3 linked regions of the Homo sapiens genome follow. The protein of the gene in region 2 purifies or fractionates together with the protein of the main gene of each other region. This does not show direct contact. Each region holds a gene or a part of one and is shown on either strand. Other genes may lie near its edges.

Region 1 (3,651 bases), about 23 Mb from region 2:
CAGTACATTTATTTTTGGTAACATAATATAAGGAACTAACTGTTGACTTTTTAAATGCAACAACCCCCAAAATAATAAAACTACTTACAGTAGTAAAATACTATAAAACACAGCTACCTAGTCAAGAAAATGTTAACAGAACCACCTGAGAGAAAGTTTTAGAGTATTTAAGACATTCTAAATCTAAAAAATGCATAGTAACCATTTCCAGAAAACTTTTATTCATGTTACCTTTAAGTGACAGGACAAACTGCTGAAAACTGACTTTAAAGTAGCAAAGAATTACCTTCTTATGATTAGAAACCCGTCTAAGATTGTCCTCTTCAATATGAGGGAGCTGCAGAAGGGGAGACTTAAATTGCTGAAGTCCCTGAACGGCCATCTGAGAAAGCTTCATGCAGTTTTCTAGGGATGCCAAAGTTGGAGCACGAAACTCCCTTTCTTAGAAAGAACAGGAAAAAAAGAAACAGGGCTGGACTTTTTACATGTTCAGGAGTATACAATTCATCACAAAAACAAAATTCACACTAAATCCATAACACCTCAAATTTGAGGATCATAGTAAGATTTTCCTTTAAAAGTTACCAGAGAAGACACTAAAAATATACAAACTCGATCTAATGAACATTTTCCAGCAACAACCATTGATTTAAAAGAAAAATTATTTGCCTCACCTCAAATAATAGTAAATTATCAGACATTATCAGTATCACCAACATATGACACCATGACAAGAACCAACATCACCCGTAACAACAAACCATAACCACTATCCTTTTTTAAGGGCATTCCTTTCCATTACTGACCAGAAATTCCCTCATTCTTTTCCTTCCATACCAAAAAAAAAAAAATGGCTAGGTGCCTGTAGGCATGTGGCTCATGACTGTAATCCCAGGGCTTTGGGAAGCTGAAGTGGGAGGATTGCTTAAAGCCAGGAGTTGGAAACCAGACCAGTCTGGGCGACAAAGTGAGATCCCACCTCTACACAAAATGTAAAGTTAGCTCCGTGCTGTGGTATGCACCTGTAGTTCCAGCTACTCGGAGAGCTAAGGTAGAAGGACTGCTTGAGCCCAGGAGTTTGAGGCTGCAGTGAGCTATGATTACCCTACTGGACTCCAGCCCTGGTAGATGCTGTCTATAATTAATTAATAAAAATTACATGACATATGAATCACTTTTATATCAGTTAAAGATTTCAAATTCACTGTTAGAAAAAATGACCTAACTCAAAAATTATTCAAAGAAAGAGAAATTTTAAATCTTTGCAAACAATTGAACAATAAAATAATTAAATTATCATGCCTGTAATCACAGCACTTTGGGAGGCTGAGGCAGGTGGATCACAAGGTCAGGAGTTTGAGACCAGCCTGACCAACCTGATGAAACCCCGTCTCTACTAAAAATACAAAAATTAGCCGGGCGTGGTGGCATGCGCCTGTAATGCCAGCTACTCAGGAGGCTGAGGCAGGAGAATCACTTGACCCTGGGAGGCGGAGGTTGCAGTGAGCCAAGATCGCGCCACTGCACTCCAGCCTAGGCGACAGAGTGAGACTCTGTCTCCAAAAAAAAAAAAAACAAGAATTAAAATCAAAAACACAGTGACCAGGGCTTTGGGAGGCTGAGGCAGGTGGATCACGAGGTCAGGAGATGGAGACCATCCTGGCCAACATGGTAAAACCCTGTCTCTACCAAAAATACAAAAATTAGCCAGGTGTGGTGGTACGCGCCTGTAATCCCAGCTGCTCAGGAGGCTGAGGCAGGAGAATCGCTTGAACCCAGGAGGCAGAGGTTGCAGAGAGCCAAGATTTTGTCACTGCACTCCAGCCTGGGCGACAAAGCAAGACTCCATCTCAAAAAAAAAAAAGAACAAAAAAAACCCAGTGAGCTGTGATATAGACTTTAAATAATAGAAAATATAGGAAAGAAATATGAAAAGACATGAGTAAAATTGAAGAAGCTCACTGAACTGGCCGACAGAAGTCTGAGTACCCATAAATCCTAAAATATGAAGTACAATCTGCATATGCTTGCAAGAAAAAGTATAACATAATTAACTATATTTCCTCCTCACCTTCACGGTTCCGGGCCATTACTATTAGTTGGCAGATTACATTAACCATTTCTTGAAGTAGGGCAGGACACTTTTTTAGCATGAATTGCTGATCTGCAAAACAATAAAAAACCTGAAACAGATCATTTTAATTTTACAGTTAAAGCATCTTTATCACTGTGGCCCAAAACTAATATTAAAGTTATGCCACAAATATTTCACATGATCTCAGAATTTTACAGATTGAATGGAAGAGTTTCTCCTCAGTATCACTATGTCAAAAATCAGCCATAAAACCCTAGCTCAGATTAGACGTTTCAAAGACAAATTTTTAATATCATAATGTTAGGCTTAATAAACCAACTCCCAGCTGGGCATGGTGGCTCACGCCTATAATCCCAGCACTTTGGGAGGCTGAGGCAGGCAGATCAACTAAATATGTCAAAATAAATATGTCAGCTAAATACAGGGGGAGAGATAAGAGACGTAGAAGAGAAGAAGAGGGCAACTTACAGAAAGAGAAAGACTCTTTCATTTATACTGCATATAATAGTTAACTATTAAGACCACATTAACCTATGGATTTGGTACTCAACAATGATTTGTTTCCTGCTTCTTACAGGTAAGTAAAAATGGAGATGCTTATGTATCTGTACAGAACATTAGCAACAGAATTACTAGTTAATTGAGTATTTCAAAGCAACTCCAATGATATTGCCTAAATAGTGCTCCTTCATTCCACCATAAGCATCCTGTCCTATCACCAATTACTAAGCGTCACATGGCCTTGTTTTCGGAAGCATTTAACTGCATTACTGCCTTAAAGGAGGTGGGGGATGGTAGGATATCATTCAAAAAGAACATTTATTTCCTAGAGGTAGTAACTGTCTTTTAAAACTTTAACTGAAATAATGTCGGTGAAAAAGAGATAATTAATGACATCCCTGGAAACACTGTTGCCTCCATCAACTACTTTTCTTTTAAGCAGAATACATGGCTTCAAGTACTTATGAAGCTTTAAATAACTATAAAACAGACATTATTGGTAACCACTGTCGGAGGAAGCTTGTAGATGGGGAGGTGAGAGGTGTTGGTTGTTGTGAAATCCATTTTGCTCCCTCCAAAAACTTACAAAGTCCTTTAAAAAAATTATTAGGAACTTTTGTATGATCTGCAATTAACTAAACATTTCTTATACAGAGCATTCTCTCACCTTGAAACACTAAATTTTAACACTTGCCAAAACGTCTGACTTACTTAGATCTTCAAACCATTTGTGAAGTAATTATGTAGCATATACATTTCTTTTTTAAAAAGTCCTTGAGCAATTATTTGGCCAAAAAAGAACAGCAACAAAACACACCGCACCACCATGCTATGGTTTGGGTCTGTGTCCCCACCCAAATCTCATGTTGAATGGTAATCCCCAATGCTGGAGGTGGGGCCTGGTGGAAGGTGATTGGATCAGGGGGGTGGAGTTCTCCCTTTGGTGCTGTTCTCGAGATACACTTCTCACAAGACCTGGTTGTTTAAAAACGTGTGGCATCTCCCCCATCTCTCTCTTCCTCCTGCTCTGGCCATGTGAAGACACTTGCTCTGCC
Region 2 (3,651 bases):
AAAAAAATATATATATAACTAAATTTACTACTCATTGCTTCTAAATACGCGTTTACTTAATAAAGTACTTACTTCCACAGTCATCCTGAATATCTACAGTAGCAAATGGCATGTCTACCAGAGAATCCATAGTATTGGCTTCAAATTCCTCTGACATTTTCTTTTTTCTTGATACATTTTCACACTCATTGGAATTAATTCCTCCTTTAACATATCACAAACAGAAAAAAAAGGATTATTTAACTTGTCATTATTTAAACATATCCTAAATGAAAATAACTCAGCTCACTGATTTCAATATAAATTAACATCTGTTAAGAAATGTACTACTTGTGTTCAAATATATCATAAAGCTATTTATATAAACATTTATACCACACTCTATATTTTTGTACACTTATAAAGCTTTAATCATTTTCTAAAACACAGTATTCAATGTATGATTAGATGAAAACTGAGTCAATCAATAATCCTCAAGATCTTTTACAGCTATATTTTAATTCTAAAACTACGTTTTTTCACGTACCTTTTAAAACAACCAGCAAGGTTTGTCAGTCATTCTCATTCTTATTTTTAGCAATATCACTTATGTGTTCTTATTTGTACAAGTTCTGGCCTATAATTTTTTCTTCAATAAAGACTTTTAAGTTGTTTCTCTCCATCATTATATTTAACACTGGATATTTAGTTAAAAATACATGGTTCTAAATATGCTTTTCTGAAAATTCAATTATTAAAAAGCAAATGATCTTACAGTTTCCCTAACTCCTCTCCCATGGTGATATACTAACTTTAAAGCCATATTTCCTATTTGGTCTTTTTTTGTTTTCTTGCTATGGGTAGAACAATCATATACCTTGGGTGGAGGTAAGAGAAAGAAGGTGTATGTTTAAATTGATAAAGTTAATTGCTAAATTTATCAGATGGTGGTCTCCCCAGTGCCATTATAACCCATGCCTTTATTGACAGACACAAATGCTGTCCGAACTAATAAGATTGAACAGAATCCTGGAATACTAATATAATTTTTACTCTACATATTTACTAAAGACTAATTTACCACTCAAGATGTTTAAGAAGTCCTTTAATTCATTCTCTTGTAATACTCTATTTTCAGATACAATACCTGTAAAACATAGTCCATTAAGAATATGGCTACACTGGGAAGTGAGGAGCCCCTCTGCCCCGCCACGACCCCGTCTGGGAGGTGTGCCCAGCGGCTCATTGGGGATGGGCCATGATGACAATGGCGGTTTTGTGGAATAGAAAGGCGGGAAGGGTGGGGAAAAAATTGAGAAATCGGATGGTTGCCGGGTCTGTGTGGATAGAAGTAGACATGGGAGACTTTTCATTTTGTTCTGTACTAAGAAAAATTCTTCTGCCTTGGGATCCTGTTGATCTGTGACCTTATCCCCAACCCTGTGCTCTCTGAAACATGTGCTGTGTCCACTCAGGGTTAAATGGATTAAGGGCGGTGCAAGATGTGCTTTGTTAAACAGATGCTTGAAGGCAGCATGCTCGTTAAGAGTCATCACCACTCCCTAATCTTAAGTACCCAGGGACACAAACACTTCGGAAGGCCGCAGGGTCCTCTGCCTAGGAAAACCAGAGACCTTTGTTCACTTGTTTATCTGCTGACCTTCCCTCCACTATTGTCCTATGACCCTGCCAAATCCCCCTCTGCGAGAAACACCCAAGAATGATCAATAAAAAAATAAAAAATAAAAAATAAAAAATAAAAAAAAAAAAAGAATATGGCTACAACATGGCTATGATGATAGGCCACAGTTAACATACAAGCCAAAAAACACACATTTTTACTGCAATTTGATTAATCTCTACTATTGTTCACACACACACACCCCTGTTGTATTAGTCCATTCGCATTGCTATAAAGGAATACCTGAGGCTGGGTAATTTCCAAACAAAAGAGGTTTATTTGGCTCCCAGTTCTGCAGGCTGCACACAAAGCACAGTGCCAGCATCTGCTTTGGTGAGAGCCTCAAGAAGCTTAAAATCATGGTGCAAGGCAAAGGGAAGCCAACATGTCACACGTCAAGAAAAACAGCAAGACAGAGAGGCAGAGATGCCAGCCTCTTTTAAGCAACCAGATCTCACATGAACTCATTACTGCAGGGAGGGCACGAAGGCATTCATGAGAGATCTGCCCCCATGACCCAAACACCTCCCACCAAGCCCTATCTCCAACATTGGGGATTACATCTCAACACGGGATTTGGAGGAGACAAACATAAAAACTATTATCATTCTGCCCCTGGCCACCTAAATCTCACTGCAAAATATAATCATCTCTTCCCAATAGTCCCCCAAGGTCAACTCGTTCCAGCATTAACTCAAAAGTCCAAAGTCTCATTTGAGACTCAAGGTAAGTTTCTTCCACCTATGAGCCTGTAAAATCAAAAAGAAGTTATTCAGCTCCAAGATACAAAGGTGGTACAGGTATTGTGTAAACACTCCCATTCCAAAAGAGAGAAATCCAAAAGAAAGGGGCAACAGGCTCCACATAAGTCCAAAACCTAGCAGGGGAGACAATAAACCTTAAAGCTCCAAAGCTCTCCTTCAACTCCATGTCCCACATCCAGGGCACACTGGAGCAAGACATGGGCTCCCAAAGCCTTAGGCAGTTCTGTCCCTATGGATTTGCAAGGTGAAGCCCCTGTGGCTGCTCTCACAGGATGGAATTGAATGTCTGCAGCTTTTCCAAGCTCAGGGTGTAAGCTGCCAGTGGCTGTATCATTCTTGGGTCTGGAAGGTGGCAGCCCCCTTCCCACAGCTCCACTAGGCAGTGCCCTGGTGGAGACTCTGGGTGGGGGCTCCAATCCCACATTTCCCCCCAGCATTGCCCTAGGAGAGTTTCTCTGTGAGGGCTCCACTGCTGCAGCAGGCTTCTGCCTGAGCACCCAGGCTTTCTGGTACATCATCTGAAATCTAGGTGGAAGCTGCCATGCCTCCTTCACTCTTGCATTTATTCTGTGCACCTGCAGGCTTAACATCACATGGAAGCCCCCAAGGCTTACAGTGGCTTGTGCTCTCCAAAGTGACCAGAGCTGTCGCTGGGGCCTTTTGAGCCACAGCTGGAGGTGGAGAAACTGAGATGTGGGGAGCAGTGTCCCCAGGCTGCACATGGCAGCATGCCCCTGGGCTTGTCCCCTAAAACCATTCTAGGCCTCCAGGTCTGTGATCGGAGAAGCTGCCCTGGAGATTTCTGAAATCCCTTCAAGGCCTTTTTCCCATTGTCTTGGCTATTAGGAATTGCCTCCATTTTAGTCATGCTAATCTCTCTAGCAAGTGGTTCCTTCACAGCCCACTTCAATTCCTCTCCTGAAAATGCTTTTTGCTTCTTTACCACAAGCCTAAGCTGCAAATTTTCCAAATTTTTGTGCTCTGCTTCCCTTTTAATTATAAGGAAAGCAACTTTAAGTCATTCCTTTGCTTCCATATCTGATTGTAGGTCATCAGAAGCTGCCATGCCACTTCTTGAATGCTTTGCTGCTCAAAAATTTCTTCCCACTGCACTCCACCCTGGGTGACAGAGTGAGACCCTGTTGCAAAAAAAAAAAAAAAAAAAGAAAGAAAGAAAGAAATTTCTTCTATCAGATACTCTAAGTCATCACTTCTAAGTTCAAACTT
Region 3 (3,651 bases), on a different chromosome or scaffold from region 2:
TGTGTGTGCATGTGCATGGGTGTGTGCACGCACAGAGTCAATGACTCCTTGGAATTCTAGACCCGTGCTGCACTGTATGGTAATCTACTAGCTGCATGTGGCTATTTAAATTACAATGAAATAAAACAGAATATTTAGCTCTTCAGTTGTACTAGCTACGTTTTTTCCTCAGCACTTTCTGTGTAGAGAGTAACTGAGGCCCAGAGAAGCGAAGTAAGTCGCCTAAGGTCCCACAGCAAGTCTGTGGCAACCAGAGGGCAGAATCCAAGTTTTCTGAGAAATTCACCAGGCTCCTTTCATCTGGGATTTAAAAAATCCTCAAGAGTTCGGTTTAGTAACAAGAAAACTGAAAACAGATCTCAGAGCTGGAAGAGTTAGGGAGGAGGAAGGGGAGAACCGGATTCAGAGAAGGCCAGGACTGAACCCGAGGGTGGGGGCTCAAATATCCGTCCCTCCCTCCACCTGCTTCAGGGAAGGGAGGAGTGGGACTCACACGCTGTCTCCCTGGATGAACAACTCTGGCCGCTCTTTTAGCAAATTCTTCTTGATCCAGATGAGCAGGTTCCGGATGTCCCCTGGAAAGGAATGCACAGAACAAACTCTTGTCAAACCCAAATAGCACCTGCCCACCCCCAGAGCCTTGCCTGGCCCACAAGGAAATACACACGGTGTTTAGAGGGCTTCTTTTAGACCAGGCTGTGATAGCCCATGAACTTGTAGATTCCAAAGGTGAGGAAACAGGTTAGGACAGGCCAGTGACTTGCCAGGTGGATCTTCAGAGAAAGCTGCACCTGGCACTGCTGAAGTCCTGGAGAAGAGGCAATGGGATTTACCTATAGTGGGGGGATTCAAGGCAGACGGCGGGAGGACTGTCGCATCTAAAGGGTTAGGAGACAGGCCCCTACCCACAAGTCCTGGAAGCCAGTCTCCAACTGCCATGGCTGGACTTCTGAGAGGACCTTGAAGAGCCCCCTCCACCTTTATCTCTCCAGCCAGTCGCAGATGGGGAGGATTCGGCTTTGCTCTTGGAGGGGTCTGCATATATTTCCCTTTGTGAGGGGAAAAAAACAATTGCTGAGCTGATAACATCAGTTAATTTCCTCTGGCAGAGGGAGAGAAGGATCATTCACCAGCTAGGGATGCTGACAAATCCCTGCTCCACTCCCCTGCCACCACCCTGTGCTTCCAGAGCCCTCCGCGCCAGCGGTGGCCAGAGGTTCGGGTGACAGGGCCTCTCCAGCTCAGCTAACACTGAGATCTGCCTCCTTGTGGTTCTGGGGGAGCCACCAGCCTCCTTGTATGTCATGTGGAGGCTCAGAGCCACCTGTCTTCAGGGTCACCTGTCCTTTCCTAGGGGCAGCAGTATCGGGCCACAGCACACAGAAATGTGGCTCTATAAACACCTCGAAGCCTATGGTCCTCAACTGTCCGCCCCCGAAACAGGGCCATTCTCCTGAGGCTGAGGAGTTCCTTCTCATTCTCTTAGACGACTTGAGGATAAAGGTCCCAGGGAGACAACTCGCCTCTGGGAAGCCAGCAGACAGGTTGGGGTTAAGCACCCCATCCCGAGTCAGCGTCCAGAGGGGTCTGCTGTCCTGGACTAATGCCTGAGACAAAGCTCAGGGCTAAGCTGGAGAAGTCCCAGGTGAGGCCTTGATTTTCCTGCCTGGAGTCCAGAGTGTACGCAAGGGAAAGGTGGCTAGGACTCAGGGAGACTTTGCTCTGCCCTGTCTGGGCCCACAGTGTGGCACGCACACACGGCCCCAGCCTTGGGCAGGGAGTTAAGGCACGCTGGCTGGCACGCGTGCCCCCTCGCTCTGACAGGCCTGCAGCCTGGATGGTCCACTTTGCTTGGTGCCAACTTGCCTGGATCGTACGCCAGCAAAGCACAGGGCCACGGGCAAAGTGTCCATGGACTGAGACTGCCGCCTTTCCATTTTAATGTCTCCTTTTAAACAAAGCAGATCAGAGTCTTCACGGTCCCTGGAGCAGGCATGGGATGGGGAAAATGCTGCCTCCAACTAGCTGCAGCTCACTTGGACTCCTGGCTGGGTTCCTCCCTGAGGTCTGGGTTTCAGAGGTTTCCCCTTGGCTCTGAATCCCCTTGGCCTCCATCTTGGTACTGTCTGGTGGGCCGCCAACCCATACATCTTGTGGCTGCTCGATAGAGCCACCGGGGTCTGACACATCCATCAGCCAGCCCTAGCGGGCGGGGGTGTGCCTGTGTGTGTGGAGGCGGCGAGAAGGTCTGGGCAGTGCCTGGCCTGCATGGAACCAGGACTCAATTAGGGGACAGCCCTGACTCCCTCCAAAGGGAAGGTGCTTCTGCTCCACTCTGGATAGGCCTGGGGGTGGGGGAAGGGCTAGTGGTCATGGTGGAGTCATCCAAACGATGGCACCAGCATGGAGTCCCAGAGGGACAAGCTGGGGGATGAGTCTGCTGCCCAGTGCGGGCTCATTTATCATGATGCTCCTATTTGCTGAGGTCACTCCCTCCCTCTTCTGCCCGCCCCCCACCCAGGCCTGCCCACATTTTTGATAGCCTGTTACCATGGTGAGGCTACCGCATCGCCACTCGTATTGTTCCCCCATGCCTGGATTTGGGGGTGGGGAGAGGGGGAACTCATGGCTCCCTTCGCAGGATGCAAGGGCCACTCGGCCTGGCCTGAAACACACCCCCAGGGACATCTTGCTAGGCTTGCTGAGGCACAGACAATATGCAAATAGCCTCCAAGCCAGATGGTCGGCTTCCAAAGGCGCCCAGGGGAGGAGGAAGGGTTAAGCAGAGTCAGGGGCTGGTGGCTTGGGGATGGATGGCTCTGTGATAGATAGGGGCTGGAGACTCTCACTTTCACCTTCCCACTCTGTGTCCTCTTGTCTTCCCTCTCCTACTAGGGGCGGTCTCCCTCCTGGGATCCCGTGTGATCATGCAGGAGAAAAATATTTATTGAGCAGCTACTATGTGCAAGATGCTAGGGAGATGGTAGTGGGCAAGAGGGAAACAGAGCTACCTACCCTCAGGGAGCTAGAGGTCAGCAGGGGAGACATACCATACTTAATTAGTTGTGACAAATGCTATCTCCTTCATCTGGGATCAGGAGAGGCCTGACTGAGGGTGTTAAACAGTGAAGCTCGGGTCTGAAGGATGAGTGGGGTGGGGAGCATTCTGGACAGAAGGATAACACATGGGAAGGCTGGGGCAGGATGGAATGGGCAGGTTCAAGGCAGCAGAACAGAGAAGGTAAGAAGCTCAGCAGGAGATGGGGCCAGGCCTTGAGAACGGGCCTGCTCCCGTAGGGGCCTCTCCCTCCCAGTGAACCTCAGCGGTATCTCCCAGGTATGTGCTTCCTGGGAACCAGGCCCCACTGCCCAGGCCTGTGCTTCCATGTGTCTCTGACTCAACACTTGAATCACGATCCAGCTCAAATGTATGGCACTACCATTACCATTACTTGAGTGGACAACTGGGGAGGTAGGGAGGGAAGGAGGGAGGAAGAAAGAGACTAAGAGTATGGACCCTGGAGTCAGACAGGCCTGGTTTTGAGCTGGACTCCATCACTTACTAGTTCTATTACCTTAGGTAATAGGAAGCCTCGGCTTCCTTTTTTTGTAAAATGGGGATGTTAACATTGTCTCATAGGGTCATTGTGG

Evidence for each region.
Region 1: the proteins of AKAP7 (region 2) and SEC63 purify together in Homo sapiens (affinity purification with mass spectrometry; one large-scale study listed by BioGRID and IntAct). This does not show direct contact.
Region 3: the proteins of AKAP7 (region 2) and URM1 purify together in Homo sapiens (affinity purification with mass spectrometry; one large-scale study listed by BioGRID and IntAct). This does not show direct contact.

Annotation. Positions count from the first base shown.
Region 1 is NC_000006.12:107,902,558-107,906,208, forward strand, and holds part of SEC63 (translocation protein SEC63 homolog), read right to left. Parts: intron 2,165-3,651; coding exon 2,072-2,164; intron 442-2,071; coding exon 287-441; intron 1-286. UniProt on the Homo sapiens protein: Mediates cotranslational and post-translational transport of certain precursor polypeptides across endoplasmic reticulum (ER). Proposed to play an auxiliary role in recognition of precursors with short and apolar signal peptides.
Region 2 is NC_000006.12:131,141,838-131,145,488, reverse strand, and holds part of AKAP7 (A-kinase anchoring protein 7), read right to left. Parts: intron 205-3,651; coding exon 73-204; intron 1-72. UniProt on the Homo sapiens protein: Probably targets cAMP-dependent protein kinase (PKA) to the cellular membrane or cytoskeletal structures.
Region 3 is NC_000009.12:128,384,740-128,388,390, reverse strand, and holds part of URM1 (ubiquitin-related modifier 1), read right to left. Parts: intron 576-3,651; coding exon 494-575; coding exon of another isoform or gene 490-493; exon of another isoform or gene 1-489. UniProt on the Homo sapiens protein: Acts as a sulfur carrier required for 2-thiolation of mcm(5)S(2)U at tRNA wobble positions of cytosolic tRNA(Lys), tRNA(Glu) and tRNA(Gln). Serves as sulfur donor in tRNA 2-thiolation reaction by being thiocarboxylated (-COSH) at its C-terminus by MOCS3.